4 linked regions of the Homo sapiens genome follow. The protein of the gene in region 3 purifies or fractionates together with the protein of the main gene of each other region. This does not show direct contact. Each region holds a gene or a part of one and is shown on either strand. Other genes may lie near its edges.

Region 1 (7,519 bases), on a different chromosome or scaffold from region 3:
GAAGCTGTCCACACAGGCCCATCCCAAATCAGAGACTCTCCCCCCTCACATACACTCTGGCTTCCTTTCCCTTAAGAGCCCAGACCAGGGTCCCAGATTCCACCTGGGCCTAGCTGATCAGTCACGTTGAGCTGGGTAGGAGTGGGGAGCATCCCTAGAATAGGACTGGTATCTGCTCCCCCTACAAAGTTGCCAGGAAATACTCTCTTGCCTGTGTGTACCACATCAGCCTCTGCCCTGGTGACAAGGACTGTGCCTGCCTGCTGGCAGGGCTACCCAAGATGGGAGGGAGGCGGTGTGCGGGCGGGGCAGCAGGCGTGGTTCTGGCTGGGAGGGAAGGCTGGCAGTTGCCCAACCTGAGTCCCGTTGCCTGGACAAAGTCTCCCGCTACATGGGACAGGCGCCCAGAACTCTGAACTTACCACAGCTGGGCTCCCATCACCACCTTGCACCTGGATGGGAAAGGCATGGCTCAAGCCAGGATCCCTCCCCAGGCAGCCATGGCAGACTGGGTCATCAATATCAAGCAGAGCTTGGTCAGAGCCCTTTGCAGCACACTGCAGGGTCTTTACTCCCAACCTACATCCCCAACAAGAACCACCAGGAGGCTCTTGTTCTCCCTCCCCATCCTGACCTGGGGCACTCCTTTGGCCAAAACCCAGGAAGCCCATTTCACAGAGTAAGCAAAGGCCAGAAGGCCAGGACCCCAGGGTGAACTTCCCAGGCTAGAAAGTGCTAAGCCAGACCCTGCACCCCTGGCTGCTGCCAGCCCAGTGTGGGAGGAGTTACCAGGTCTCACTTGCCTTAGCCCAAAAGGTGAGCTGGGCTCCAAGGAGCAGGCCTGGTGGGATGGGGGACCCTTCTGGTGTCGGGACACAAAACTAGCCAGAAGCCCTGCGTTCCCCCAGCTCTATGGTCCAGTCTTGCATTTCCTCGGCCACCACAGTAACTGCAATCGCCTGGGGAGAGGCTGTCTAGAGACTCCTGGCTGGGCACTGGGAGGCAGCGGTACCGGAAGTGCCCTCCCCAGGCCCGTCGGGCAGCAGCAGCAGCAGCGACGGGCATTCCGCCGCGTCGACACCCACTCACTGCCGCTGCCGCACTCACAGCAGAGACAGGAAGAGGCAAGCGCCCAACGCAAAGCAGCCCAGGAGGCTGGGCCGCCGCCCCTTCCCGCCCCTTCTCTTCCTCCCTGAGGCAGCAGCGAAGCGGATGCCATTTTGAAACCTCCAAGGCTGTGCCCCGGAGGCCGGGTCCGCAGGGACAGTCAACAGATGGCCCATAATGGACATACATGCTGTTCCTCGGCCACAGGTCCAGCACGAAAAGCCCTGCTTTTCACAGCCTGGGAGCCCTATGACAGTTCTGAAGTCGAGGGGCCACACCCCCCCATGCACTTCTCAGCCTACAACGGTGCTGCGCTGTTGCAAGGGCCTCCCTCCCCCCAACTCTAAAACCCCCAAATCAAAATTAGACTGCCACTGGGCACCACACCTACTTCCAGTGGGAAGCTGGATGGGGACAGCCAGTAGGCCCACCGTCTTTGCAAAAGGCCAGCTGGGATGCTCAGAGGCACCCTGGCCCACCCCCAGCTGGCCCCTCAACTCCTCATTCAGCTAGTCCACCATCCCCCTTCACAGGGTCCCAAGATCCAACAAGCCCCCCAACTCTCAGAGGCTACATCCCAGGCCTTGCAGCCCAGAAGGGGTGTGGGCAGCCCAGCACCTACTAGCAGATCTCCTGGGCTCACCCGCAGGGGCAGCAATATGTCGGCTGTCTCACCACTTCCACTTCCCCCCACTCCTCTAGCAGCCACCATCTTTTCTGGCCTTGGAGGCGGCCACAACCCTAACTCCTCCACTCTCTCTCCTACTTCCCAGACTGGCCTTCGAAACTGGAAAACATAGAGCCTCCTTGGGAAGCCTGAGGCCTGGCCCCCTCCCCCAGCGTGACCAGTGGAGCCTCAATCCAGCCCCGTGGGGGTTCTGCATAAGGCAGCCTAGGCCCTCTCCAACCCAGGGCTCCCGCCTCCTAGCCCAGCCCACTTGGTGCAGGAAGGGTGGAGGGATCTGGGGAAGGCCAGAGTGTAAGAGGACTTAGGGGAGGATCAGCAGAGGGTTTCGGGAGTGATGCCTGCAGAGAAGGATCTGGAGGGCAGGAAGCAGGGAGCAGGGCTCGCTGAAGGGGTTCCAGCTGGAGATGGGGCTCAAGAGCAGTTTCCCACTCGAGAGGTTCCTTGGGTCAGAGTGCACAGGTGGAGGATACAGATTCCAGACTAGGGATGGGGCACAGAAGGAGAAGGAGGGAGTGGGTGGGGGGCCTGGCAGGGGCCCCGCGGGATGCTCATGCCCAATAGGAATAAAAGGCGCAGGTGAGGAAAACAAGCGGAGCCTGAGGGTTGGGGAACAAGTGGCGGGCATCCTGGGGGTTTGGGCAAAGTGTAGGGAAGGATGGCGGGGCTCTGAAGTTCTGTGAAGCTAGTTAGCAAGGGGGGATGGCCAAGCAGGGCACTGGACCGCGGGTGTTGGGGCACTGTTGACTGGATTTGGAGGTCTGGGGTCTGGGATGAGACAGGGGTCTGGTCTAGAGTCTGGGCAGGATCAAAGGTCTAGTCCAATCTAGAGTTTTCAACCCTGGTCCTGGCCCAGGTGTGGGGTCCCAGACAGCCCGGGTCTGGGAGTTTGAAGCCCTAGTCTGGGAGGTCAAAGTCCTTGTCTGGGGATTCGAGCTGGGAATCAAGGATCCCAGTGCGGGACGCGGCCTCACCCAACAGCAGCAACTTCACCTCCCGCGCCGCCTTCTCTCCGTCCTCCCGCAGGTTCTTGTCGATCATCTTAGAGCGCTCGGCCGCCGCCTTGTCCTCGGCGCTCACGGTGCAGCCCATCCCGCCGTCCGCCGGCCCGGCCGCCGCCCGGCCCCCACACGGCCCACGGCCCGGCTCGGCCCCGCCCGACCCACTCCGCTCCCACCACCAGCCCTCTGCGGGAAGCACTCGGGTCGGCAGTTCCGAGCGACTGCGGGAGGCGCCTTCCCTACCGCCGCGCACCGACGGCGGGGCGGGCCGGGGGTGGGGCCTGGGCGAACCAAGCCTGTGACTGGGCCGGGGCGGGCTTGCAGGCGGGGCCAGAGGAGATTAGAGGCTGTTGATTGGCTCGAGGGCGGAGCGAAGGGGGAAGTTAGGCGCAGCCCAGGCTCGGGCCTGGGCTGCAGGCGGGGCCACGCGGAGAAAAGGCAATAGGGGTGGTTCCAAACCCCGGGACCCGGCACTGGGCGGGCTGCAGGCGGGACCGGGCTGTGATTGGGTGCGGAGCGCCGGGAGCTCTGTTGCTGGACAGCCGGGAGGGCGGATCTGTTAACCCGAGGGTGGGGATCCGGTGCCCTCGAGGGCAGAGCAGGAACCAGCCCTCTGAGCTTCTGCGAGTTGGGCGAGTTAGGTGGAGGAGGCGTGTCTTTGTCATTTGTTAAAGTTAATGAGTCCAGTAAACTTGTTTTGGGATCTACGAACTCGGGAGCCTTTCTGGACTGCGGTTTTCTCAGTCTTAAGGCGGGTTTACCGCCTTCTCCCTCTGGGTTGCAGCTAGTCGAAAAAGGAAAAAAAAAGGCCGGGCGCAGTGGCTCACGCCAGTAATCCCAGCACTTTAGGAGGCCGAGGCGGGCAGATCACTTGAGGTCAGGAGTTCTAGACCAGCCTGGCCAACATGGTGAAACCCCATCTCTACTAAAAATACAAAAATTACCCGGGCGTGGTCGTGGGCGCCTGTAATCCCACCTGCTCAGGAGGCTGAGGCGGGAGAACTGCTTCAACCCGGGTGGCGGAGGTTGCAGTGAGCCGAGATCGCGCCATTCATTGCACTCCAGCTTGGGCGACAGAGCAAGACTCCGTCTCAAAAAAAAAAAAAAAAATTGGTTTCCATCTTTACACCTTTGCCTAGGCTGTCTCCTTTAGCTGGGTGGCTTCTCATATCCATCCTTCCCCAATCTACCGGGAGGCATTCTTCGGCAGGCAGCCATCCTGGACTCCAATCTGGGACCAGGCAATCAGGACCCAAGGGAGAAAGGGAGAGAGGATGAGAGGGTGGAGAGGGAGGAAGAGAGGAGGGCGGGCAGGCAGGGTGAGGGGGTTGGGAGGGAAGAAAGAGGAAGAAGTTGCCACTGGACTTCTAGAAACAAAAGTGGCCATGATCTTATGACCTGTCTCTTCCATGGCCTGTCCACGTCTGGAGGTGGCCATGATCCCACATCCCACCCTCCTGTGGCCTGTCCCCACTGGGCAATGGCTGCAACCCTATGGCCAGGCAAAGGTGGGGTGGAAGCAGCAGTGTTTCTAGCTGAACATTTCAAGTCTTTCTGATCCTGTGCTCCAGGAGCAGCCCAGAGCCCCACCCTCGATTGGACATTTGAAGGGTCTGCCAAAAATTAACCACGAAGGCATTTTGTGTGACCCCAGTGCCATGAGGCTAGGAGGCCCCAGCCCAAAGGGAAGGCCCCTGAAGCAAGACAGGGTGCTTGCCACCAACAGCCCGGTGTTTAGCATAAACCCCTTCCTTAGAACCTTGGTACACATTTTGGCTGGGCATGGTTGCTCATGCCTATAATCCCAGCAACTCTGGGAGGCTGAAGCAGGCAGATCTCTTGAGGTCAGGAGTTCGAGACCAGCCTGACCAACATGGAGAAACCCTGTCTCTACTAAAATACAAAAAATTAGCGGGGTGTGGTGGTGGGCACATGTAATCCCAGCTACTTGGGAGACTGAGGCAGGAGAATCACTTGAACCCAGGAGGCGGAGGTTGCAGTGAGCTGAGATCATGCCATTGCACTCTAGCCTGGGCAAGAGTGAAACTCCATTTCAAAAAAAAAAAAAAAGACCGGGCACGGTGGCTCACGCCTGTAATCCCAGTACTGGGAGGCCGAGGCGGCAGATCACGAGGTCAGGAGATGGAGACCATCCTGGCTAACACGGTGTATTTTGTACTAAAAATACAAAAAATTAGCCGGCGTGGTGGCGGGCGCCTGTAGTACCAGCTACTCAGGAGGCTGAGGCAGGAGAATGGTGTGAACCCAGGAGGCGGAGCTTGCAGTGAGCTGAGATTCTGTCTCTGCACTCCACCCTGGGTGACAGAGCAAGACTCCGTCTCAAAAAAAAAAAAAAAAAAAAAATCAGCTGGGCGTGGTGGCACGTGCCTGTAATCCTGGTTACTCAGGAGGCTGAAACAGGAGAATCACTTGAACCTGGGAACTGGAGATTGCAGTGAGCTGAGATCACACCACTGCACTCTACCCTGGGCAACAGAGCAGGACTCCGTCTCAAAAAAAAAAAAAAAAAAAAAGAACCTTGTTACACATTTTGTTCCAGCTCCCAATCCCCAGGCTGGCTGTTCTCCCTGGAGTGTCTGCATATCCCTATCTGAATGTCTCTCTTGTTGAGGGGTCATTGGCCTGGAAGTCCTCCAATGACTCCCTCAGGCCCCCCTCCTGTCCTGAGACATAGGATATGATGTCCCATGTCCACCACTGCTCTGAAGCTCAAGCAGGCCCTGCCATGGGCATGCAACATGTTGAGGACACATAATGTCCACCAGGGCCACAGATATGCTGTAGACACCCACACATAGGTCAGTCTCCAACATGCCTCAGATCCACAGAACACACTCTACAAAAATGGGTACACATGGCCAAGAATACAATCTGTCCACGCACAGACTACAAACTGGCTTCCAAGGTGGGACCCTCCCCTTCCCTCTACCTGTCACCCTGCCCCAGGCTTGAGAGCTGATCCTCGCTCCTCTGGCCTCTCTAGCCTGCTCCTAGCAACAGCCAACAGCTCTCACAGTTGCCAGGCAACAGGGAGAACCTGTCAGCCCCTTGGAGGCCCAGCTCTCAGTAGGTGGGCGCAACACAGACCCCAATCTATGGAGGCAGGGCAAGATGGGGCTACTGGAAGGCATGGCCTTCCCCAGCCCCAGGCCAGGTCCTGTGGTTATGGCACCCTTCCCGCCAGTCAGCTGCTCCTTTCCAGTCCTATGCTCTTCCCAGGGAGTCCAGCAACCCTTGCTTCCACCCTGCTAGCTGCTCCTTCTCCATCTCCATGGGGTCCCCAGGGCTATGGCCAGGCCTCTGCTTGCCACTCCACTCATACACCTCCCACTCTGGGGGCTCAGAACCCCACAAGGTCCTCTCCAGCCTGACTTCTTTGATTGCCAGCCCCATGTCCACCACTGCTCTGAAGCCTCCCCGAGACACCCAGGCACCTCAAATCCACACTGTCCAGAACTGGGTACATCCCATCCCACTGGCCCCTGTTCCCAGGCTCTCCACCACTTCATGATCCCCCCACCAGCCACAGCAATGACCCCCTCCCCTACCCCTATATGCCATCAGCCTCTTCCCTACCTCAATTTCCCCTCCAATCTGTATTTGTTCTCTGTCCCCACTATCTCCCAGCCTAGGATTCTAACGTCTTCCTTGGCTCTCCTGTTTCCCTACAATTTATCCTCCACATGGCAGCCAAGGGCATCCTACTGAAAGAAATCACATCACCCCCTTGCTCGGAAACTTTCTGTGGTTCCCCAATGCCCTGAGAATAGATGAAGCCCCCACACACACTGGTTTGGACTCTGCAGCAGTTGGAGGCTGTAGGCTGGCAGTTGGAAGCAAAGACTCTGAGGAGCAGTTTGCAAACTTGCCAGCTACTTGTTACTTTGGACAAGTACCAGAAACTCCCTGTACCTCGGTTTTCTTATCAGTAAAATGGGCCTAACGGTTATACATACCCAAAGCACAGGCAGAGGTCAGGACTCCAGGAGGAAACATGTAAAACATGCAGAATGTGCATGGCACATAGAAAGCCCTCAATAAGGGTGAGGTGTTATAGTAGTGATTTCTTTTTTTTTGAGACTGAGTCTGACTCTATCACCCAAGCTGGAGCGCAGTGGCATGATCTTGGCTCACTGCAACCTCCGCCTCCTGGGTTCAAGTGATTCTTGTGCCTCAGCTCCCCAAGTAGCTGGGATTACAGGCGCCTGCCACCACACCCGGCTAATTTTTGTATTTTTAGTAGAGATGGGGTTTTGCCATGTTGGCCAGGCTGGTCTCAAACTCCTGACCTCAGATGATCTGCCTGCCTCGGCCTCCCAAAGTGCTGGATTGCAGGTGTGAGCCACCGTGCACGGCCCTTTTTTTTTTTTTAATAGAGATGAAGTCTCACCATGTTGTCCAGGCTGGTCTCAAACTCCTGGGCTCAGGCAATCCTCCCGTCTTGGCCTCCCAAAGTGCTGGGATTACAGGCATGAACCACTGTGCCTGGCCCAATAGTAGCGATTTCTGTAAGGCTTTATGATTGTCCCCACTCAAGGGTCCACCTCATGTCCCTCCACTTGCAACACACTGGCACTCCAACCATCTGGCTTGCCTTGCTCTCTCCATCCCTCGATCTTCCCTCCCATCCCCCTACCCTGTTAAATTAATCCCTCCTCCCCACCTTTCATTCCCTGGCTGTGAGCTGGGCTTCTCTGAGTCCCAT
Region 2 (7,751 bases), on a different chromosome or scaffold from region 3:
GACAAGAAGTTAAAAAATGGTTCAATATTAAAATATTATTTTATTTTAAAGCCCAATCTTTCAGAAAGCTTCTTAGTATAGCTTTGAGCCTTCAACGTCAACATGTAAGTCAAATATTTAAGTTAAATATTAACATCAAGTTAAGCATACTAGATTAAAAGGTACTCTGAACCCACCCACCAGGTTATACATACTCTCACTCAATCATGTAAAGAATTGAATTCTTTATTTGTGATATCCATAAACGTTGCTATTCTCTATTTCTATCCAGAAAGGCAATTTTCACCTATTATCACTTTTGTTCTTCTCTTATAAACAACAACTTGAATGCTATTGCAGGAAAGGGCTACAAATATACATTTGTTAACCAAGCAGAATACACAGATATTTTGCTTTACAACTTGCACCTAAAATACCAGTATACGTAGCTGGTTCATTAGTTGTCATAGCAATTTAGGGCTATTGCCCAAGCTATGCATAGCAGTTTACATTTTCAAACCTCATATAGAAAGGGCTATTGTGATATGAACTGGCAACTACATTCCTGTGAAGCCCATCTCAGTTACAAGCAAATGTGTTAACTTCCAATTCTGCAAAGAATTTTGATGGCAAAACTTCCAAATCTGATGCAATTGTCTTAAGCAAGTTTTTAAACAAATTGTTTCGCAGCTACTCTGCCATTCTGCCAGTAGATGGTGCTACAAAGATCGGGAAAGGGATTTCCATGAGGCCAACAGTTCGGATATAGGAAAAAAAAAAAAAAAACGTTTAAACCTGCTCTGAAAGTACAAAAACGCATTTGAGGGTAAAATATAACCCTTATTTTTAACCATTCATTACAGACAAACCAGTAAGAGGGATGAAACTAGGCCATCTGAAAAATTTTAAACAGTTTATATGAATGACATGCTTAACACAAACTATATAGAACTACACAGTACACAGTTTGAAGTAAATTGTCATAGAAATGACCAACCATGTCAAGATGATAAACAATTCGCTTAGTACAAGAGATGGATGCACAGAAACTTAAGAGTTTAAAAAGCCACATCCACCACTTCAAAAGTTTTGCCTGTAAGGGATATAATTCAACACGCAACTAGCAGGGCAACAGGAGAGGGGAAAAAAACCACAGGACCTCTTAAGTTTCTCTAAGTACACATCAAGAATAAAGAATTAACACGTAAAGTCTTAAACAAATATCCCTTAAAAAACGGTACGGAATGGATCCTAGAAAAAAAATGTTAGACATGTACGGTCAAACACAATGATTTATTAAAAATAAAACGTAAAAATGATTTTTGTACATATGCTTCCAAATTTCAGGCATGGGATCCAAGTAGATTTCATAGAAAACGCTGTAGCCAGGTTATCAAGTCCTTACAACAAAGTAAACTACCCCCCACCCCAACCCCCACCCAGGTTTTGCTACAGAATCAGCAAGTTCACTCCCTCCCTCCCCCCAAAAAACACAAATTAAAACAAGACATTTTGCTAGTATAAAAACGACCAAGGTCCAAGTAATAATAAAAAAATAGAGTCCATCAATGACTGTAACACAAAAATGTGTATGTGGGGCCGAGTCCATCTTCAGAGGGAGAGACAAGAGAGGTGGCAGGCAAATAGAGGAACACCCCCAAGGGTAAGCAGCCTTAGAAGTGGCTCCCCCAAGGGCAAAACAGGGAAGGCGGTGTGTGTGAGGGGGTGGGGCTTAGGAGTTGACCCCACTTGGGCTGTTGGAAAGAGCTACCCCTATAGCCACTCCCAGGCATTTTAAATTTTCTTTTAGAAGGAGCTGCCTCCATAGCCACCCCCACCGCCATAGCCGCCTCTGTAAGGTCCACTATTACTGCGACCGCCCCAGCTACTGCCTCCACCGCCGCCGCCGCCGCCGCTCTTCATGGGCCCATAGGAGGACTGATGCTGGCTGTAGCTGCCGAAGCCGCCGAAGCCGTTACCGTAGTCGCTCCCACCGTAGGACGAACCGCCGCCGCCGCCTCCGTAGGCATTGTAGCCGCCGCCTCCGCCGCCGCCGTAACCACCGTAGCTGTTGTAACCGCCGCCGCCGCCCTTGGAAAGGCCGTTCTGGTCTCGACCACCGCCGCGCCCCCGGCCGCCTCGGCCGCCCCGGGAGGATCGGGAGCCGCCTCCACCCCCACCGGAGTAGATATCCTCCTTGGGGACTGCTTTCTTCACCTCCACGCGATGGCCCTGAATCGGATGGAACTTGACCACCGCGGCCTTGTCTGCCGCGTCGTGATTCTGGAAATACACGAAGCCGAATCCACGCTTCTTGCCGGACTGCTTGTCGGCAATAATCTCGGCCTTTTCCACGGTGCCAAACTGCGAGAAGTGCTCGATCAGGTCGCCCTCAGCCACGTCTCCTTTAAGGCCTCCGACAAAGAGCTTCTTAACCTTGGCGTGGGCACCGGGCCGCGCCGAATCCTCCCGGGACACCGCCCGCTTCAGCTCCACAGTGTTGCCGTCCACGGCATGGGGCGAGGCGGCCATGGCGGCGTCCGCCTCCTCCACATTGGAGTAGGTCACGAAGCCAAAGCAACGGGAGCGCTTGGTCTGGGGATTCACCACCACCACGCAGTCCGTCAGAGTCCCAAAGGCCTCAAAGTGGCCGCGCAGGCCCGACTCACTCGTCTGCACATTGAGGCCGCCGATGAACAGCTTACACAACTGAGAATTCTCCATCTCCAAGGCCCGGGCCTTGCCCCCGCCCTGCGAGCTCCGAGGTTTCGCCGTCGCCGCCGTTATCGTTGGTTAAGGCCTCTACACAGCTTGGGCCCAGCCGTTGCTGGAGCCACCCCCGCCGCTCACCGACGGGGAAGGGAAAAAGGGAAGGGGAGGGAAGGAAGGAAGAGAGGAAGGGGGAGGGAAGGGGAGCGGTGCCGGCTAAAGGGCGAGCCGAGGAGACTGGAAGACAACCAAGGCCACCGCTACCGCCGCCGCCGCCACCTCCGCTCCCCTATCTGGGCACCACACAAAGAGGCCGCTGAACGCGCGCGCACCCTCCCCGAGGCGTGCGTCACCGCCGACGTACGGCAGCCTAGGGCTACCAGCCAATCCCCGCCTCGCTCCCCTTAATCCCGCCTACCGCGCCGCAGCGCCGCTCTAGATCACGGACTCCCCGCCCTCCGCGGTCTATTCAAGCCCGCGGCCTGTGCCGCTCCCGCTTCCGCTTCTGCCAGCCCACTTTCATTCCCGAGCGCCCCACTGTCCCTTGACATGGGTCCCTCCCTGCCCTCCGCGCACCACCGCGATTCATTTCCTCCTAGCACCGCGGCTGTTCCCAGTGTTTCTCCCCCTCCCCTTTACTCATCCCCTCGCCCAACTCCGCAGTGGCGTTCGCGCCAGCCCCTTGAGAGACATCTGAGTTCAGCCAATCACCGTGATCCCCTCGCACCCACTTCCGTTTTCGGCAGCTGTTGGACGGGCGCGCTCCCCGGTGCGCGCTTGCCCCGGCGCCCCCGGCGTGCAGAGCCGGCCTACCACCCCCGCGCCTTCTCCCGCCCAGGGCTTTGCCGGGGAGAGAGCAGGGGGCGCGCTGGGGGCCATTCCCAACGGATGCGGTCTGGGGCGCCACGCGCGGGCTTTTTGAAAACTTGACTGTTGGGGTTGGGGGCCCGGATCTACCCGCCGCCTCTCCGCTTGTCCGCTACACCTGGCGTCCCCGCCCCACCTCCCGCCCGCACAAAGATGGAGGGCAGAGGCCTGGTCCACGAAGGCGGTTATTAACCGTTTACAGTGGGCCCGACGTGCGGTTAAACTAAAACTTTGCCACGTGGCCCTGCGCAAAAGCGAGCCCGAGGCGGCGGTGTGAAAGACAACAGGGAACCAAAAGAACTTCAGACATTAGGAACCAGACGAGGCGCGACATCCCTGCCTCCCTGCCACCCTCCCGCCCTCCTTGAAGCCCTCCCACGATGCCCTCTCAGAGGAGGCCCTTTCAGGTCCCCTTGGCACACTCCAGCAGACATTTTCATTTAACCTCAGTGAATGGTTTTTTATGTGTAATTTACATCATCTATGTGTTGCTTTCTTTGAACTAGAATGTTAGCTTTTTTGTTGTTGTTGAGATGGAGTTTCACTCTTGTTGCCCAGGCTGTAGTGCACTGGCGCAATCTCGGCTCAGCAACCTCCGCCTCCTGGGTTCAAGCTGTTCTCCTGCCTCAGCCTCCTGAGTAGCTGAGATTACAGGCGCCCACCACCACACCCGGCTAATTTTTGTATTTTAGCAGAGATGGGGTTTCACCATGTTGGTCAGACTGGTCTCAAACTCCTGACCTTAGGTGATCCATCTGCCTCGGCCTCCCAAAGTGCTGGGTTACAGGCGTGAGCCACCGCGCCTGGCCTAGAATGTTAACTTTGCTTTTTTTTTTTTTTTTTTGAGACGGAGTCTTGCCTAAGCTGGAATGCAATGGCACGATCTTGGTTCACTGCAACCTCCACCTCCCGGGTTCAAGCGATTCTCCTGCCTCAGCCTCCCAAGTAGCTGGGACTACAGGCGGGCACCACCACACCTGGCTAATGTTTGTATTTTTAGTGGAGACGGGATTTCACCATGTTGGTCAGGATGGTCTCAAACTCGTGACCTAGTGATCTGCCCGCCTCGGCCTCCCAAAAGTAGAATGTTAGCTTTTTAAAGATGTTGGGTTAGACGAATGTTTTACAGAGAGAGAGATCATATACCCCTAAGTTACTGCTTTTAGTGCCCTCACTCAGATGGGAATGGAAGAAAATTACAATGGCTTCCATTTATTGAGCCTTTGTGTGCCAAGCAAGATAAATGGGGTGGGACATAGTTAATATGAGGCATTACGTGACCAAAAGCCTCCAAAACCATATGGTAAACGCTGAAGAAGTTAAGAGGAATTCCTCACTGTATCCTCAAGTATTCAGGAAAGATTTAGGAAAGAATTGGAAGTTGCACTGAACCTCAGAGCCAAAGACTAGTTAGTATCCTAAGCAAATTAAGGCTGGAACAGAAAACCAAATACCACAAGTTCTCACTTATAAGTGGGAGCTACACATTGAGTACACATGGACACAAAAGAAGGGAACATTAGACATCAGGTCTTTTTTAAGGATGGAGGGTGGGAGGAGGGTGAGGACTAAAAAGCTACCTATCAGGTATTATGCTGATGACTTGGGTGACAAAATTATCTATACACCAAACCCCCAAGACTAACAATTTACCCACATAACAAACCTCCACGCGTATCCCTTGAACCTAAAATAAAAGTTGGAAAGGAAAAAAAAAAAGATTTCTGTAGGGAGTTTATTTGAGCAAAATCCAGAGGGAACATAAGCTTCAAGAGACAGGGAGTGGGCCAGTTAGTTTGAGAGAAGCAGGCAGTTTTAGATAGAAAATAGTGAGAGGTAAGATAGGTTGAGGGTCTTTGGTACTATGAAATGATACTATGGAATGTGCTGAATCTTAGGTTAAGTAGTTTGGATACTGTAACAAAGGTAAATAGATGGGCTAAGGTTTGAGGGTAAACTAGTCTGATCTATCACTTACCCTGTAACCATTCAGTTATGTGACTTTGGCTAAGTTACTTAACCTTTTAAAAAAATGTAATCAGTTTTATTATCTTAAAATGGGAATAATAAAACATCTTTCTGTTGTAGTGAAAATTAAATAAGATTCTACATGTAAACATGTATACATGCCTGGTACACAGTAAGTGCTCAGTTTATCCAATTATATGAATCCTATGCCTGGTGCTGGCAATATGGCTGTAAACAACAGACAAAAACCTCTGCCCTCATGATGCTTACATTCTAGTGGGAAGAAGCAGACAATAAACAAATAAGAGTGGTATATGGCATGTTAGATAGTGATAAATGACATTAAAAAAATGAAAGAGGACAGTAGAAAGCTATTAACCTTGTTATTACAAAAAAAATTCAAATGTCAGGATTTGCCTATTGATAATAAAGAAAGGGGAAAATGGGCTGGGCACAGTGGCTCGTGCCTGTAATCCCTGCACTGTGGGGGGGCTGAGGCAGGCGGATCACTTGAGGTCAGGAGCTCAAGACCAGCATGGCTAACAAATTGAAACCCCGTGTGTGGTGGCGCATGCCTGTAGTCCCAGCTACTTGGGAGGCTGAAGCAGGAGAATTGCTTGAACCCAGAAGGCAGATGCTGCTGTTGTTAGCTGAGATGGCACCACTGTTTCAGAGTCATCCAAATCTTAAAACAGTAAAAGATGAACTCCTGAAGGAATAAAGACCATAACTTATGAAAACTGTTACTTTAGGAATTTACAATTTTGGTAGATAGTTTTTGCCTACATTGTTTTTAAATAATAGTTTACCAGCAGTGCCCAACTTTTCTGGCACAAGAGACCTATTTTGTGAAAAACAATTTTTCCACAGACCAGGATGTAGTTTCAGGATGATTCAAGTGCATTACATTTAATGTGCACTTTATTTCTATTATTATTGCATCATAATATTCAATGAAATATAATAATTATACAACTCACCGTAACGTAGAATCAGTGGAAGGCTTGAGCTTGTTTTCCCGCAACTAGCCGGTTCCCATCTGGGGGTGATGGGAGACAGTGACACCCGAAGTGTGTTGCTTATGTCCAGTTTACTCCATAATCTAGTTTTGGTTGCTGTCACTGCAGAAAACCCTGCTTCACAAATATAGGATGCTGGAAATGGAAGCAGGCTTTTCAGTGCTTTTGTGGCAATCTCAGGATATTCCATCCAGAATGTATGGAGATTTGAAGTTGTCTCAAACATACAAGGCTGCCGTCACTTGCAATCTCAAGCAGTTGATCCTCTTCTAGTATCGACAAAGTCAATTCTTCTGGCTTATTCACAAATGGGTGGTGGATCCATTCCTTCCCAGCTCAGGGATTTTTTTGTGGTTGGCAAGTAAAGCTCAAACTCTTTTGAAAGCTGAGCTAGGTGATCATGCAGCAGCTGGGAGAAAGAAGGCGTTGGCTCAGTCACTTTCAAAATCTCTGCTAATGTTTGAAACATGTCAGAAATCCCAATGTTCACTCATCGCCCCCATAACTCCAGTTTGGTTTTCAATGCAGCCCCTTTATCTGCTGATTTGAACACAGTTGTCATTCTCCCCTGAAGTGACAGATTGAATTCACTGAGCAGGTTGAATGTGTCACACAAGTAAACAAGTTTTGCCACCCATTCTATGTCACTGAAATGTGCTGCTAGTGGTGACTGTTTTTGTAAAAGAAATCTCTGGAGTGGCTCTCATAACTCAAAAATTCTGGCCAGTTATCTACCTTTAGAAAGCCATCTCATTTCTTATACACATCTCACAGAGTTGCGCAAACAGACATTGAGTTAAGGGCATGCACTTTAATGTCATTGATAATTTTAATCACATCCTGTAAAACCTTAAGTTCGGGTGACAATTTTCGGCTACCCGGCATTTCTCTGTAGATGACACAGTGCATAGACTCACATTCAGAAGTGACCTCTTTGACCTGAGTAGTGAAACCAGAAAGCCATCCAGTCATATCAGCCACTCTGTCTGTGCATATACTGACACAAAATGACCAATTCCGTTTTTCTGATATGTAATCAAAGTCTTGAATAGTTCTGCACCTGTGGTGTTGGTTGGCAACAAAAGTGCACATAACATATTCCCCTGCACATCCTCCTGAAAAAGATATGGCACAAAAACAAGCATTGTTGTCTTGTCAACATCAGTAGACTCATTAACCTGGATTGCATACCATGGTGACTCATTAATC
Region 3 (7,806 bases):
ATCCCCAGTGTTGGAGGTGGTCTTGGAGGGAGGTCATTGGATCATGGAGGTGGATTTCTCCCTTTGGTTTTGTTATTGTGATAGAGTTGTCACAAGATCTGGTTGTTTATAAGTGTGTAGCACCTCCCTCCTCTCTCTCTTCCTCTTGCTCTGGCCATGTAAGATATTCCTGCTTCCTTTCGCTTTCCACCCTGATTGTAAGTCTCCCAAGACTTACCTAGAAGTCGAGCAGAAGCAGCCATGCCTCCTGTACAGCCTGTGAAACCGTGAGCCAATTCAACCTCTTTTCCTTATAAATTACTCGGTCTTGGGTATTTCATCCACCATGGGATTACACAACGAGAAGGCTTTCACAAGGTGCAGCCCCTTGATCTTGGATTGCCCAGCCTCCAGAGCTGTAAGAAATACATTCCTTTTCTTTGTAAATTACCCAGTCTGTGGTCTTCTGTTATAGCAACACAATGAGGGGTAAGACCAATGGCAAAAGGGACTTTCAGATATAATTAAGGCTATGGACTTTCAGATAGAAAAATTAGCCTGGGTTGTCTAGTTGGGCCCAGTCTAAATCCACATGCCCTTAAAATAGAGAACTTTCTCCAGCTAACAGCAGAGGAGATAAAGCAGAAGATAAAGTTAGAGAAATTTGAAGTGTGAGTGGGACTCTGCCCACCATTGTTGGCTTCAAAGATGAGAGAAGGGACCATGAGTCAAGGAATGCAGCCAACCTCTAGAAGCTGAGAATGACCTCAACCTTACAACCATATGAAACTGGATTCTGCCAGCAACTTGAATGAGCTCAGAAGTGGATTTACCCTGAGAACCTCCAGAAAGAAACAGCTCTACTTCTTTGTGGTTTTATCCTCATAAGACCCTAAGCAGAGGGCTCAGCTGAGCCACTTTGTACCTGGACTTCTGGTCTGTTTAACTGTGACATAATACATGGATGTTGTTTTAAGTCTCCAAATTAATTTAATTAAGGTAATTTGTTATGACAGTAATAGAAAATTAGCACAGTTTCTGATGAGAAATCAGCTGTTAGTTGGATTAATTGCTAACCAGTACGTAATATGTAACTTGACTTTAATTGCTTTTTATCTTTGGCTTTTAGCAGTTTGACTATGCTGTGCCTTAGTATGCTTGTTTTTGTTTATTCTGCTTAGTATTCATTTTGCATGTACAAATTTACGTCTTTCCTAAAATTCAGGAAAATTTCAATCATGATGTCTTCTAATATTTTTTCTGCACCATTTTATTTCTACAGCTAGTATTCTAATTAATATAATCTATAAGAATTGTAAGCTTTGTTCATTTTAAAATATATCTTTTCTCTGTGTTGGACAATTTCTGTTGGTTTATCTTTAAGTATACTTACTCTGTCATGTCCATTTGGCTAGTAAGTCCATTGAGTAAAGAATTAATTTCAGAAATTGTATTTTTCAGTTCTAGAATTTCCCCTTCGTTCTTTTTTACTGTTTTTATTTCTTTCATGGGAGTTCCTATTTCTTTGCTGAGATTGTTAGTTACAACATTTTGCTCATTTAGGGACTGGATTTGATTGATCTTATTGTATCTTAAAGAATGTGTTTAGATAGATGATAGATAGATAGGTAGATAGATAGATAGATAGATAGATAGATAGATAGATAGATAGATAGACAGACAATGTTTTCATACGTTAAATAATTTTGAATGTACCATGGACATACGAATCTTACACTGTGGGTATTCTAGATGCTATTATTTTTCTCTGTTGAGTTTTCTTTGTCTCAGTAGGCAGTGTTCTTGGCTAGGCTGGAACTGGAACTGTTTTCTTGTGTGGCAGCTCCAGCCTCAGTTCAGGCCTTTTGCTCCAGTTGCTTCCTTTGGGTCTATTCCTCACGTGCTGGGTTCAGGGATGCTGGCAGTCAGAGTCTGGGCATTCCCTCTCTGGGTCTTTGTTTTCCAGGATTTCACCATCATTTTCAGTGCTCGTGGTTTCCCAGCTTCACCTTTCTCATTCCCCAGGGAAGAAAGATCATGAATGTTGTTATGTGCACCCCAGCATTATGTATGCCACCCCTTTTGGGGGAGAGTTAGCCATCTATGCCTTTGTATTTCATCTGTTGATTTCACAAATTTGTGTATCAAAACCCCAAGTATAGGAGTTTTACCTGTGACAAACAATGCAGGGAGAAATAACGGTGTGTCCTGACACATGTGGACACTGTTCAATTGTTTTCTATTAGTAAAACGACTAGCACCATGTATGCAGTTTGAAGACGTCCATATCTGGTGCACAGGAATGCTTTTTCTCCACGTGTTTCAAACCACACTTGGCACTACCAATATAATGTTTTCTAAAGTGATCGCTGGAATGGAAGCTTTCTCTTTTTTTTAACTTTTTTGCTAAAAGAGGTTACACATACATTTTTAGTTTTTGTCTAATTATGACCTTTAAATATATTTCTATTTTTTTTCCTTAGCTCTTTATATAATTGTCTTAGTCTGTTTTCCATCACTATTACAGAATACAGCAATACCTGGGACTGGATAATTTTTTTTTTTTTTTTCTGAAGCAGAGTCTCTCTCTGTCTCCCAGGCTGGAGTGGTAATTTTTTAAAACCCACTCTCACTGTAACTAATCCAGTCCCAGGAGAGCAAGAACTGACTCATGCCTGCAGAATTAACCCAGTCAGACAGAGTGGTATAACCCTCTTGACCTGATCGCCTCTTGAAGGCCCCGCCTTCCCCTGGGGACCAAATTTTCCACACACAAATTCTGGGGACATGCTGAAACCATAACAATAATGAAGACCATTAATGCTTCGTCTCTTAGCTATGTCACAAATCATTTCCCCAGTTTCTCTAGCTTTCACTTGTGTGTGGTATTTTTTGAATATAGGACTTTTAACTTTTCCGTAGTCAAATCTATCACGACCGAGAAACACTATCACTTAGTAATGAGGCTCCTTGCTTGGCAGTCAGAGAGACCTGAGTTCCAATCCTGCCTCTACTTGTTACCAGCTGTGTGACTTTGGTACATTGCTTAACCTCTCAGCACCAGAGGTTTCTCGTCCATAAAATGGTCGCAGCAGTGCCAGACCTTCTGGAATTGTTAACACATTGTGCAAACAATGGTTGTAAGATACCGATGCCAGAGATGGGAAGTGACACACGCTGTCCATGGCAGCTGCTACCTTTTCTATGGTTAGGATTATTTCCTGTCTGTCTTTTTTCCAGGCTTACAGAGTGCTTCTCTACCTCAAGTGATATGTATATTTACCTACATTTTCTTTAAATGCATTTTTGTTTTCGTGATCTATCCCAGCCCTACTGATTTGAACTGTTCACTTTATAAAATCTTTATTTTATATGCTTTTTCAAATTGTTTATGAGCTCAATACTGTTTTAGTTTTTTTTTTTTTTTTGAAACGGAGTCTCATTCTTTTTGGCCCAGGCTGGAGCGCAGTGGCGTGATCTCAGCTCACTACAATCTCTGCCTCCCGGGTTCAAGCGATTCTCCTGCCTCAGGCTCCTGAGATTACAGGCGCCCACCACAATACTTGGCTAATTTTTGTGTTTTTAGTAGAGACGAGGTTTCACCATGTTGGCCAGGCCAGCCTCAAACTCCTGACCTCAGGTGATCCACCTGCCTCAGCCTTCCAAAGTGCTGGGGTTACAGGTGTGAGCAGCCGTGCCTGGCATACTTATTGTAATTTTTTTTTTTTTTTTTTTGAGACAGAGTCTTGCTCTGTCTGCCAGACTGGAGTGCAGTGGCACGATCTCGGCTCACTGCAATCTCCGCCTCCCGGGCTCAAGCAATTCTCCTGCCTCAGCCTCCCGAATAGCTGGGATTATAGGCCTGTGCCACCACGCCCGGCTAATTTTTGTATTTTTAGTAGAGACGGGGTTTCACCATGTTGGCTAGGCTGGTCTTGAACTCCTGACCTCAGGTAATCCGCCCACCTCGGCCTCCCAAAGTGCTGGGATTGCAGGCGTGAGCCACCGTGCCTGTAATCCCAGGCGCCACTTAATTGTAATTTTTAATGAACATTTTGATACTGGTAGGTCATACTTCTCTCCTATTCATCTTATTCAAATCCTTTTCCTACACTTTCTTTTTACTCTTTCAAAGAAACTTTAGGTTATTTGATATTTTTCTTGGTCTGGCATAAAGTATATGAGGAAAATGAAAATTTCAGGCTTCGAAGCTAGGAACACTGTTTGTCTCTCCGTTTATTTAAATTTCCTTTCATGGTTTTCATAAAGTTTTTTCCTCACTGCACACAACTGGTTAGGCCATTTCCTAGCACTTTTACATTGCTGCCATGTATCCGATCCACCTAAGTGTGCTTTCTTTCTCATTTTTACTGGTACTTACAGAAGTACATACATTTTTATCATCTGCAAATATTGAGTTTTACTTTTTTCTTTGAAAATGTCATTTCATTATCGGAAACATCTAGCACCATCTTAAGCGGTGCAATACACAACGGAAGACAGTCCTTGGTTTTTTCACATTTTACTAATTATGAGGCTAACAGGTGAGATAGTATCTTATTCCCATTTTGCAGATAAGGAAGATAAGGGCGGTGGGGCACACAGCTGGTGAACTCGCCCCAATCCCATTTCGCATTTGATCCCAGGCAGCCTGGCCCTGCTGGGTGAAAAGTCCCATCCCAGAGAGGAAACACAATGAACGGCCTCGCCGTGCGCCCACGAGGAGAGGCCTCTGGGACACCGTCCCCAGGGCGCGGCGGCTGGGCCCGGCTTCCCGCACCGGGGCGCTGTCGGCCCGTGGTGCGGGGTTCGAGCTGCGGGCGGGGAATCCAAGCGGGCTCGCGGCGGACACCAGGTGTCACCTGGCCGTGGCGTCCGGCGCGGCGTGGGCGTCCGGGGGCGCGGCGTGGAGGAGCGCGCGGGATGGGGCGTGGGCGCGGGGAGCGCCGGGCGGAGCCTTAACAAGTGGTCGGGCGGGCGGACGAGGCGGGCGATGGCCCCGCGGCCGGGACGCGCACAGGGACCATGCAGGGCAACGGCAGCGCGCTGCCCAACGCCTCCCAGCCCGTGCTCCGCGGGGACGGCGCGCGGCCCTCGTGGCTGGCGTCCGCCCTGGCCTGCGTCCTCATCTTCACCATCGTGGTGGACATCCTGGGCAACCTCCTGGTCATCCTGTCGGTGTATCGGAACAAGAAGCTCAGGAACGCAGGTAGGGCCCGCGCCGCCTCCCCTGGGCCAGCGCTCCGGACGCAGCGCCTCTCCGCGGGCAGCCAGCCTTCCCCAAGCACTTGGTTCTTTTTCCTAAACACTGCGGACTTGGAGTTATTTTTCCTGTTAGAGAGGACTCTTCTCCAGCCTGCCCGTTGAAAGTGCCTTTTCATAAGGCGCGGAGTCACAGCCCCTAAGAGGTGGGACACTCCACCAGAGTCGGGTTCTCTTTCCTATGGGGACACCCCCGTCTGGTTGTCCTGTCTGAGGTTTATTAGATTGAGAAGCCTCAGGTCCAGGCTGCAGAAAGTTCCTCAAGCAGCCTCTGCAACGAACTGATCAATTGCTTGGTCTTAACATGTGATTTAGTTTTCCCAACATTGTTAAAATATGGAAACATAGAAGCTGGCAAAATGATGGAGCAGCCGCCGTGGTCTTGTTGTTCGGGAGTAGTCTGCAGTTACGAGCCTACAGTGGAAAGAGAGGCTCCCAAACGTGCTGTGTCCGGCAGGCGGCGGCTCCTCCAAGTAAACAAGTTGACACTTTAAAAACGGAAGTTGTTGTGTTAGAGTAGGCAGGTAGCCAGGCGTGAGCAGGAAAGAGTACACTTACGTATAATATGCAACTACAGGTAATTGTGTGCTTGAGTTAACTTGCTTTTTCCTCCGAGCAATGCATTGAACTGGTTTGTTCTGGTGGGAACCTGTGGACACTTTGTTCTTAGGATGCTGGATGTTCAGACCTCTGAGTGATGATTAGATGCTTGGTTCTCTGAAGAAACTAGTTTTTTATTTGGAGGCACTTTTGGGAGAAGGGGCGGGGAACGAAACGTGCACTTAACATGTCTGCCAAGATCAATATTTTCGTTTTAACCAGGTGGTTAAGAAAAGCTCTAATTTTGCTTAGCTCCTTTTGGGGAGGCTCACCCCTGCCCTGCCTCCCCCACCCGCCCCCAGTAGTGCTTTTACGGTTTGTAGTTTGAGAATTAGTTAGTTAAGCACTTAGTAATATGAATTGAGTTTGAGTCAGTAAATTGAATAAGCTCACTTCGTAGGTGATTGATATAAACTGGAGGAATTCTGCCTTCGAGAAGAGGCTCTTTCCTTCCTAGCAATAAAAACGACTTTCTCTGGACCAAACAGGTTGTGAGCACTGGGTTAATTGAATCCTAGTGCAGCCTTGTGCTGTGGCGCCGTGGTCAACTCGCCTTACAGAGGAGAAACTGGGGCTGCAGATTGTTCCCAGGGACTGTAGGTGTGAGCCCGGTTGAATTCCCAGAGCTGGCCTCCAGAGCTCGCCCTGCTTCCTTGCTGTCAACACCTGCAGCATTTGGGAAGTTTGAATCCTGCAGAACCTTTAAAAAGTGTTCACGGCTGGGCGCGATGGCTCAAGCCTGTAATCCCAGCACTTTGGGAGGCCGAGGTGGGTGGATCGCCTGAGGTCAGGAGTTCGAGACCAGCTGGCCAACATGGTGAAACCCCGTCTCTACTAAAAATACAAAAAATTAGCTGGATGTGGTGGCCCACAGCTGTAATCCCAACTACTTGGAAGCCTGAGGCAGGAGAATCGCTTGAACCCGGGAGGCGGAAGTTGCAGTGAACAGAGATTGTGCCATTGCACTCTAGCCTGGGCAACAAGAGTGAAACTCCATCTCAAAAAAATAAAATAAAATAAAAAGTAAAAAATGATCACGCCTGAACAATTTTACTTCTTGTGTTTTCTGAAGAAGAACTTAAGAACTCCTTACACTCACTTTGTATTTTATTTGCTAAGACGTGCTCTTAAGAGGATATTCCTGTAGCTGCATGGGAGACCCTTAGTGACCTTTAATCCGCACAGCTTTAGAAGTTCCATATTTTTCTAATAGGGATTTTTTGTTTATATGTGCGGTTCAAGCCATTTGAGGATTTCTGGAATGGATGGTAATTTGAAACAGTGATAAGGATAGCTGATTCAAATATAAGTTTTGGTATGCTTATTAAAAGTTTTGATGATCTTCAGACCTCTCATTTCAGCTAAATTAATTTTGTTGGCTTTAAGGATGAAATGTTGGGAAGAAGAGAATGGAAGAAATGACAATGTGAAGGCATCTAGGCTTTGAACCATCACTTTCCTTTGGAAAGCTTGGTATAATTGTGGTGATTTATGCCACCTTCCTCTCCTCAAGGGACTGTGTTGACATTTGACTTCCCAGGGAATAAATTAAAAATGGCTAACAATCTGCATGGCGGGGACAGTGGACAGCCACAGCCGACGCAGGCTGCAGACAACCACTGGTATCTGTGGTGCCAACAGAATATTCGCTCTACTCTTGTCCACAATTTGATAATAGAAGTGAAGCTACCATATCATATCTTCTGAGTAAATTTGATAGCATAAGGGACGATTCCCGCAATGGAACGCTAGGATTAGATCCTTGCTGTGCTCCTTCTGATTTCAGAAATCAGTGAAGCTAAATACCAAACTTCATTTTCCACATTTGTTGAATTGCAGGTAATACCCAACCGCTTAGCCTCATAAGAGTGTTGCAATGACTGTAGTGAAGTGGCGCATATGAGAATACTTTGAAAAGGATAAAACACGTAATACTGTGTTGGCTTGTTTGTTTTCTGGGTACAC
Region 4 (7,019 bases), on a different chromosome or scaffold from region 3:
GATCGAAGAATAGTTGATGATTGGGCCAATGATGGATGGGGCCTGAAGAAAGCTGCTGATGGGGCTGCTGAGGTTCGTGTTTGCTGCTTGTGCATTTGTGTCTGTTATTGTAAGGAGCTGTTATTTTGTGAAAGTCTGTGTTAAGGTTTTTTTTCTTCATTTGGCAATATTGGCATAAAAAGTATAACCATATGCCTGCAAAAGACACAATATTGGGTTTTGGGGCATGATTTCATTAGTCTAATGTAGTGGCTTTAGAGTCTGTTTGTGTTCAGGGTTTTTTTTTTATTATTTGTCTGGGTATATATTTCGAAATTTGTCATTTAGGCTATATTTTAATACACTCTTATATGTTGAATCTCGGTTTACACTACATACAGAATTTTCAAACAACTGGTCATGTGGCCGATTTAAGAATTGGAGAGCCAGGGATACTGAGATAAGAAATTCACTGGATCCTGAGGTTAAGGGAGCCTTTTGCAGGTGATGTAGAAGCCAGCTTTTGCACCTATGAGAGTGAAATCATCTTGATTATAAGGAGAGCAAGAGGATGGAGGCTTTCTCTAATTTCTTTTTTACATTTTATGAGCATTTTCTCTGAAAAAGAAGGTCCTGCGTAGTGCCATGCCATAACTGAACTGCAGAAAAACAGCACGGCCTATGTTTGGTGTCAAAAGCTGGAACTTTCAATCAGCCCTGTCTTGTTTTTCAGCCAGGCGTTGTGGGGCAGATGATCGAGGCAGCTGAAGAGCGCCCGTGGCTGTGGGTAGTCTATATTCTAACTGTAGCCCTTCCTGTGTTCCTGGTTATCCTCTTCTGCTGTTCTGGAAAGGTAGGAAGTTTTTTTTTTTAGAATCAATTTTAGAGACATCACTCTAGTGATTATTAAAAATAACTAAGATATGTTGCCTGAGGTTTTCTTTGTAGTGGCTCAGTAATGACCAAGCCATGTTTGGTGTTGACTTCAGAAACCTTACTTACTGTTCCTCAGTGGCCGTTTATTGTGCCCAGATGGGAGCAGGATTTATAGCCCCTTGGTTGCTATTATTATTTATCCTAATCTGTTACTCTCCATAGTGTTCGGCAGCAACTTTCTAAAAAAAAACAATAAACTTAGATACCAAACTAGCCACTTGGGCAATAATCAGCTTTGCCTGCTGGCATAGCTATTTCTATTCTTTGTAATTCAGTCTTTGATTCCTCATTATCCATTCTGCCTTCACCTTCCCCACTCTCAAAACAGTATGTTGGGGTACCACAGCCTTATTGTTAGTTTTTCTTGTTTAGCCTTTTTTTTTTTGCATGCTATCATAAAAAAAGAAAGTCTTATTTTGGACTCTACTTCTGCTAAATGAGGATTATGCTTCATCTGGCATTCATAGCACTTTGTAACTGGATCCCAAGTTCCTTTTCCAGCCTCAGCCTCTGCCACTATTCTGTGTATCGGTGCCTCAGTCACCTTGACTTTTTTGACCTTTATTTTCCTGCCTGGCCCTTTTGTTTTTATTGTTCTACCTTGAAACACACAAGCACATGTGCATACACACACGTACATACACGCTCTTCAGGGTAGGAATTACATCCTATTCGTTTCTGTATATCTATCCCTGTATACAGCCTGGAACAGAACTTTGCCTGTAGGCATTCAGGAATTATATAACATAATACATGAACATGTAAACAAAATTGTACTTTGGGGAACATTTCAGAAACAGACCAGTGGTATGGAGTATAAGAAAACTGATGCACCTCAACCGGATGTGAAGGAAGAGGAAGAAGAGAAGGAAGAGGAAAAGGACAAGGGAGATGAGGAGGAGGAAGGAGAAGAGAAACTTGGTAAGAAACAGAGTCCAGAAAATCTGCTTTAAGCCAAGACCCTACGATGTTGTTAAACCTTTACAGTCAAGTTAAGGATTGTTTTTAGCCAGGCGTGGTGGCTCAAGCCTGTAATCCTAGCACTTTGGGAGGTTGAAGCAGGAAAATCACTTGAGCCCAGGAGTTTAAGGCTGTAGTCAGCCAGGATAGTGCCACTGCACTCCAGCTGAGCAACAGAGTGAGACCCTGTCTCTCTCTCTCTCTCTTTTTTATTTTTTAAGACAAGGTCCCACTCTGTCACTCAGGTTGGAGTACAGTGGCACAGTCACAGTTCACTGCAGCCTTGACCTTATAGGTTCAAGTGATCCTCCTACCTCAGCACCCCTCCAAGTAGCTGGGACCACAGGCATGCGCTACCATGCTCAGCTGTTTGTTTGTTTGTTTGTTTATTGATTTATTTATTTGATATGGTCTGGCCCTGTTGCCCAGGCTGGAGTGCAGTGGTGTGATCTCGGTTCACTGCAGCCTTTGCCTCCCAGATTCAAGCGATTCTCCCACCTGGGCCTCCCAAAGTGTTGGGATTACAGGCGTGAGCCACCAGACCCAGCGAGATCCTGTCTCTTAAAAAAAAATTGTTGGCCAGGTGCGGTGGCTCACGCCTGTAATTCCAGCACTTTGGGGGGCCGAAGCAGGCAGATCACGAGGTCAGGAGGTCGAGACCATCCTGGCTAACATGGTGAAACCCCATCTCTACTAAAAATACAAAAATTAGCCGGGCATGGTGGCAGGTGCCTGTAGTCCCAGCTACTCAGGAGGCTGAGGCAGGAGAATGGCGTGAACCTGGGAAGGCAGAGCTTACAGTGAGCCGAGATTGGGCCACTGCACTCCAGCCTGGGTGACAGAGCAAGACTCTGTCTCAAAAAAAAAAAAAAAAAAAAAATTGTTGGCCAGGCATGGTGGCTCACGCCTGTAATCCCAGCACTTTGGGAGGCCGAGGTGGGTGGATCACGAGGTCAAGAGATCAAGACCATCCTGGCCAACACAGTGAAGCCCCGTCTCTACTTAAAATAAAAAAGTTAGCCAGGCATGGTGGCGGGCGCCTGTAGTCCCACCTATTCGGGAGGCTGAAGCAGGAGAATCACTTGAACCCGGAAGGCAGAGGTTGCAGTGAGCCGAGATTGCGCCACTGCACTCCAGCCTGGCGACAGAGCGAGACTGAGTCTCAAAAAAAAAAAAAAATTGTTGGCCGAGCAAGGTGGCTCACGCCTATAATCCCAGCACTTTGGGAGGCCAAGGTGGGTGGATCACCTGAGGTCAGGAGTTCGAGATCAGCCTCGCCAACATGGTGAAACCCCGTTTCACTAAAAATACAAAAATTAGCCAGGCGTGGTGGTGGGCACCTGTAATCCCGGCTACTCCGGAGGCTGAGGTAGGAGATCCACTTGAACCTGGAGGCAGAGGTTGCAGTGAGCCGAGATCATGCCATTGCACTCCAACCTGGGTGACAAGCAAAGTCGATCTCAAAAAAAATAGTGGCCGGGCGCGATGGCTCACGCCTGTAATCCCAGCACTTTGGGAGGCCACCGAGGAGATCATGAGGTCAGGAGATCGAGACCATCCTGGCTAACACGGTGAAACCCCGTCTCTACTAAAAATAAAAAAAGTTAGCCGGGCATGGTGGCAGGCGCCTGTAGTCCCAGCTATTCAGAACACTGAGGCAGGAGAATGGCGTGAACCCGGGAGGCGGAGTTTGCAGTGAGCCGAGATCGCGCCACTGCACTCCAGCCTGGGCGACAGAGCAAGACTCTGTCTCCAAAAAAAAAAAAAAAAATTGTAGATCTAGAGATGTGTTCTAATGCTAATATATAATCACCAAAAATAATAAGGTTTTGCTCAGTTGTTTAACTTCTGTCTTAGAAGAGAAACAGAAAAGTGATGCTGAAGAAGATGGTGGCACTGTCAGTCAAGAGGAGGAAGACAGAAAACCTAAAGCAGAGGTAAAGGAAAGGGGTCACACATTTTGTTTTACCAAGCTGAAGGTACATTTATGTAAAGGGAATATTTTAATAGGGTAGTTTACAGTGGCTTATGGCAGTAAAAATTCTGTTAAAGCCAATTTTGTTGAAGTGGGATTCTTTGTGATACAGGTCAGTGTTTTGTTTGATAATTTTAAGCTACATATTAATCTCAGAAGTATCTTTTTAGCTGAAAATCATTTTCTGAAATAAGCAGAAGGTTATAGGGGGAAAATAAAATGCTTGCTAAGAAGGAAACTTCGGGTCATTAACAGTCTATTTGCCTCTCCTCACTGTGCCCTGAAAAGTATTTCTTATACAAATCACTGTGTTCTAAACTTTTTGTCCCCGTTGTCCATAGATGGGTTCATTCATTCATTTAACTGACATTTGTTGAGTGCCCATTTTGTGCCAGGCATTGTCAGTGAGTAAGACAGACAAAGATACTCTGCCTTTAGGGAGCTTAAATTCTACTTGGGGGAAACAGGCAATGAGCAGTAAACATTTTAAGGAAGTAAACAACACAGCGTATTAGGAAGTAAGAAACGATGAATAATTAAAACAGGAAAAGATACTAAAAGTGCTAGAGGTAGGCGGGTCACCATGTTAAAACCTTACTCGAAAGATGACATCGAACCAAACACTTGAAAGAGGTAGAGAACTTTTCCATGGGGATGTAAGTGGGAAGAGCATTCCAGGCACAGAGAACAGCCAGTATTGAGGCCTAAAGTGGTTGTCTACAAGGCCAGTATGGTGAGTGGACAGAGAGAGTGGAGAAAAGAAGGGTGGAGAAGGCTCCAGGTTAGACAGGCTGTTGTGTGGACTTGGCTTTCCCTCCTAGTGAAGCGGGCAGCCATCACAGGCTACTGGACACAGGTGTCACAGGATGATGACTGTGTCTGCTGTGTTTCCTATATACCAGGGAGAATCAGGGCGACCAGTTAGGAGGTCCCTGTAATCATCTAGGAAAGATACGGTGGCCCCACAAAGGGTGACAGGAGAGGAACAGAGGGTATGAGAACTAGTTGGAGATCTGGATCTTGGTTTTGTGGTAGATTGGATATATAGAGTATGAGAGAAAGGGAACAGTCACTGTCTGTATGTACCATTGCTTACTAAAGTCCTTTACCCAGCACCTCTGTGTCTAAATCTGGTCTCTCCCGGAAAGCTCTCCTCAGGTTTTACTTTCAGCTACAACTCTGCCTTCCTATTAATAAAGATCATTGCTATCTGTATCTTTTGTATATTTTCCATGGATATGTTCTGTCTTAACTAGAATGCAATTCTTAAAAGTAGAGACCATGTTTCCCCCAAACTCCCTCACACGTTAAAAAGTTGCTGGTGCATTTAAAAAAAGGGAATATTTTCATAGGGTAATTTACAATCTTAGCAACTTGTGATAGAGTACAGAGCAGCAGCCTTGGAGTCAGTCTACTTGGATAGCCTTCCATCTTCATGAATCCTTGGTTTCTTATCCTCAGAATGGGGCTAGTGTGCCATAGGCCAGTAGATTGTTTGGGATTAAGCAAGATTAAGAAATCACAGTGTCTGATCCTTTTTTAAGAAAATGTTTATGGGTTAGATTGAGAAAAGTGTATGTTTATAGAAAACAATAAAGACTAAACTGAATTAGAGTAGGCATAATTCCACCACCTCTGAGACAACCATTCTTCTTGGTGCATTTTCTTCTCATCATTTTCCTCATTTTTTTCCTCAAATAAGTTACCCTCAGTCTGGCTGATCTTGAAAATATGGTGAACTTTTATTATTTTTTAAATGTGCTAATTATAATGAATTTCTTTTCAATCAATAGGAGGATGAAATTTTGAACAGATCACCAAGAAACAGAAAGCCACGAAGAGAGTGAAACAATCTTAAGAGCTTGATCTGTGATTTCTTCTCCCTCCTCCCCTGCAAGAGTGGTCCTAGGAGAGGACCTGGCACACCTTAGGTTGACATTCAGAAAACTTCAAGACATCACCATCAGCAGGCTCCAGTTGAACACTAGTCTGTGTAACTTTAAACATCTAGCAGTAAATACTTGCAGTTGTGATATAAAGGACCCTGTTTCTGTAGAAAAGAAAACATTTAACATAATGGTTGTGAAATGTAACATGAAGCAAACTAACTTTTTTTTTTTTAACATCTTTGTTTTTAAAATAGAATGATAGAACTTTGCCAGTCTTTAAGATCTTGGCTTAATTTAATGTATTAATCTGTTTGTGCAAACATAATACCACCATTTAAAAATGTTAGGGAGATGAGTTGCAGTTTTTATAATAGATTTTTTTTAAAGTTTGGTATTGTAAAACATTCACACCTCTGTCCCTCAAAATTGATAATTACGTTTAAAGTGCAGTCATTTGTGGTTAGAATCTTGTTTTGTTTGCTTCCATTATTGAGTTCCTCCTAAGGAAATTGAGGAGAGGGACTGAATAGAAGCCCAAATTCATATAAAAGTTGCGTTTAAGTTGTATTAAAAATAGATATATAAGAAAAAATTCTTTCACTTGATGTTTGTTAGACCAGAAAGTGTGTGTGTTCTGTAGCTCAGTTCCCAGACAGCTTTTTAGGTAGTGGAGGAGGTGGCTTCATGTGGCACTTGGGCATTTATATTCCACTTGGGAGGGTCAGGCTGTGGCCTTCTGGAGCAGGTGGCTTGTTAAGGAATGCTAGCAGGGCATGGCACGTGAGCTCCGGAATAGATGTCTTCATCACTTCTTCCACTGTGTGTTGACACTGTTTTCCTTACCTATTTCCTCAGATCCCCAGCTTTCTCCTCTGCTATGCATTTTCTTCACAGTGCAGCTTGCAGTCCGTTGCTGAAAATGATTATAAGCCCTGCATAATGTTAAGCTTTATTGTGATTACGTGTATGTTTCTTCTTTCTTTTAAGCAGACCCATACCTTTCCAGGGTCAAAGTACAGAATAGAATACATTGATACAAAGTACAGAAAAATACTTTGATTTTTATCCATTTCTTTTACTCTGTGTAAAGACTTGAGAAGTCTAATTCACAGGCAAACCAATACAGAATTGACTGCAGTTGAACAGACTAGAAGTATTTGTGGGAGGAGTGACATGAAGCATGAGTTATCTGATTTTTTTTGTAGCTGCTATATATTTTAAGCCTTCATTTGCAATTCATGTAACAGTTGTGTCATAAATTACACAATAAAGCAGTCCTG

Evidence for each region.
Region 1: the proteins of MTNR1A (region 3) and GNAI2 purify together in Homo sapiens (tandem affinity purification; 3 studies listed by BioGRID and IntAct, with this or other methods). This does not show direct contact.
Region 2: the proteins of MTNR1A (region 3) and HNRNPA0 purify together in Homo sapiens (tandem affinity purification; 2 studies listed by BioGRID and IntAct, with this or other methods). This does not show direct contact.
Region 4: the proteins of MTNR1A (region 3) and CANX purify together in Homo sapiens (tandem affinity purification; 2 studies listed by BioGRID and IntAct, with this or other methods). This does not show direct contact.

Annotation. Positions count from the first base shown.
Region 1 is NC_000003.12:50,231,701-50,239,219, reverse strand, and holds the start of GNAI2 (guanine nucleotide-binding protein G(i) subunit alpha-2), read right to left. Parts: upstream 3,017-7,519; 5' UTR 2,885-3,016; coding exon 2,767-2,884; intron 1-2,766. UniProt on the Homo sapiens protein: Guanine nucleotide-binding proteins (G proteins) are involved as modulators or transducers in various transmembrane signaling systems.
Region 2 is NC_000005.10:137,751,364-137,759,114, forward strand, and holds the start of HNRNPA0 (heterogeneous nuclear ribonucleoprotein A0), read right to left. Parts: upstream 3,001-7,751; 5' UTR 2,704-3,000; coding exon 1,786-2,703; 3' UTR 1-1,785. UniProt on the Homo sapiens protein: mRNA-binding component of ribonucleosomes. Specifically binds AU-rich element (ARE)-containing mRNAs. Involved in post-transcriptional regulation of cytokines mRNAs.
Region 3 is NC_000004.12:186,552,564-186,560,369, reverse strand, and holds the start of MTNR1A (melatonin receptor type 1A), read left to right. Parts: upstream 1-4,802; 5' UTR 4,803-5,004; coding exon 5,005-5,188; intron 5,189-7,806.
Region 4 is NC_000005.10:179,722,948-179,729,966, forward strand, and holds part of CANX (calnexin isoform d precursor), read left to right. Parts: coding exon 1-72; intron 73-712; coding exon 713-832; intron 833-1,709; coding exon 1,710-1,836; intron 1,837-3,732; coding exon 3,733-3,812; intron 3,813-5,643; coding exon 5,644-5,697; 3' UTR 5,698-7,019. UniProt on the Homo sapiens protein: Calcium-binding protein that interacts with newly synthesized monoglucosylated glycoproteins in the endoplasmic reticulum. It may act in assisting protein assembly and/or in the retention within the ER of unassembled protein subunits.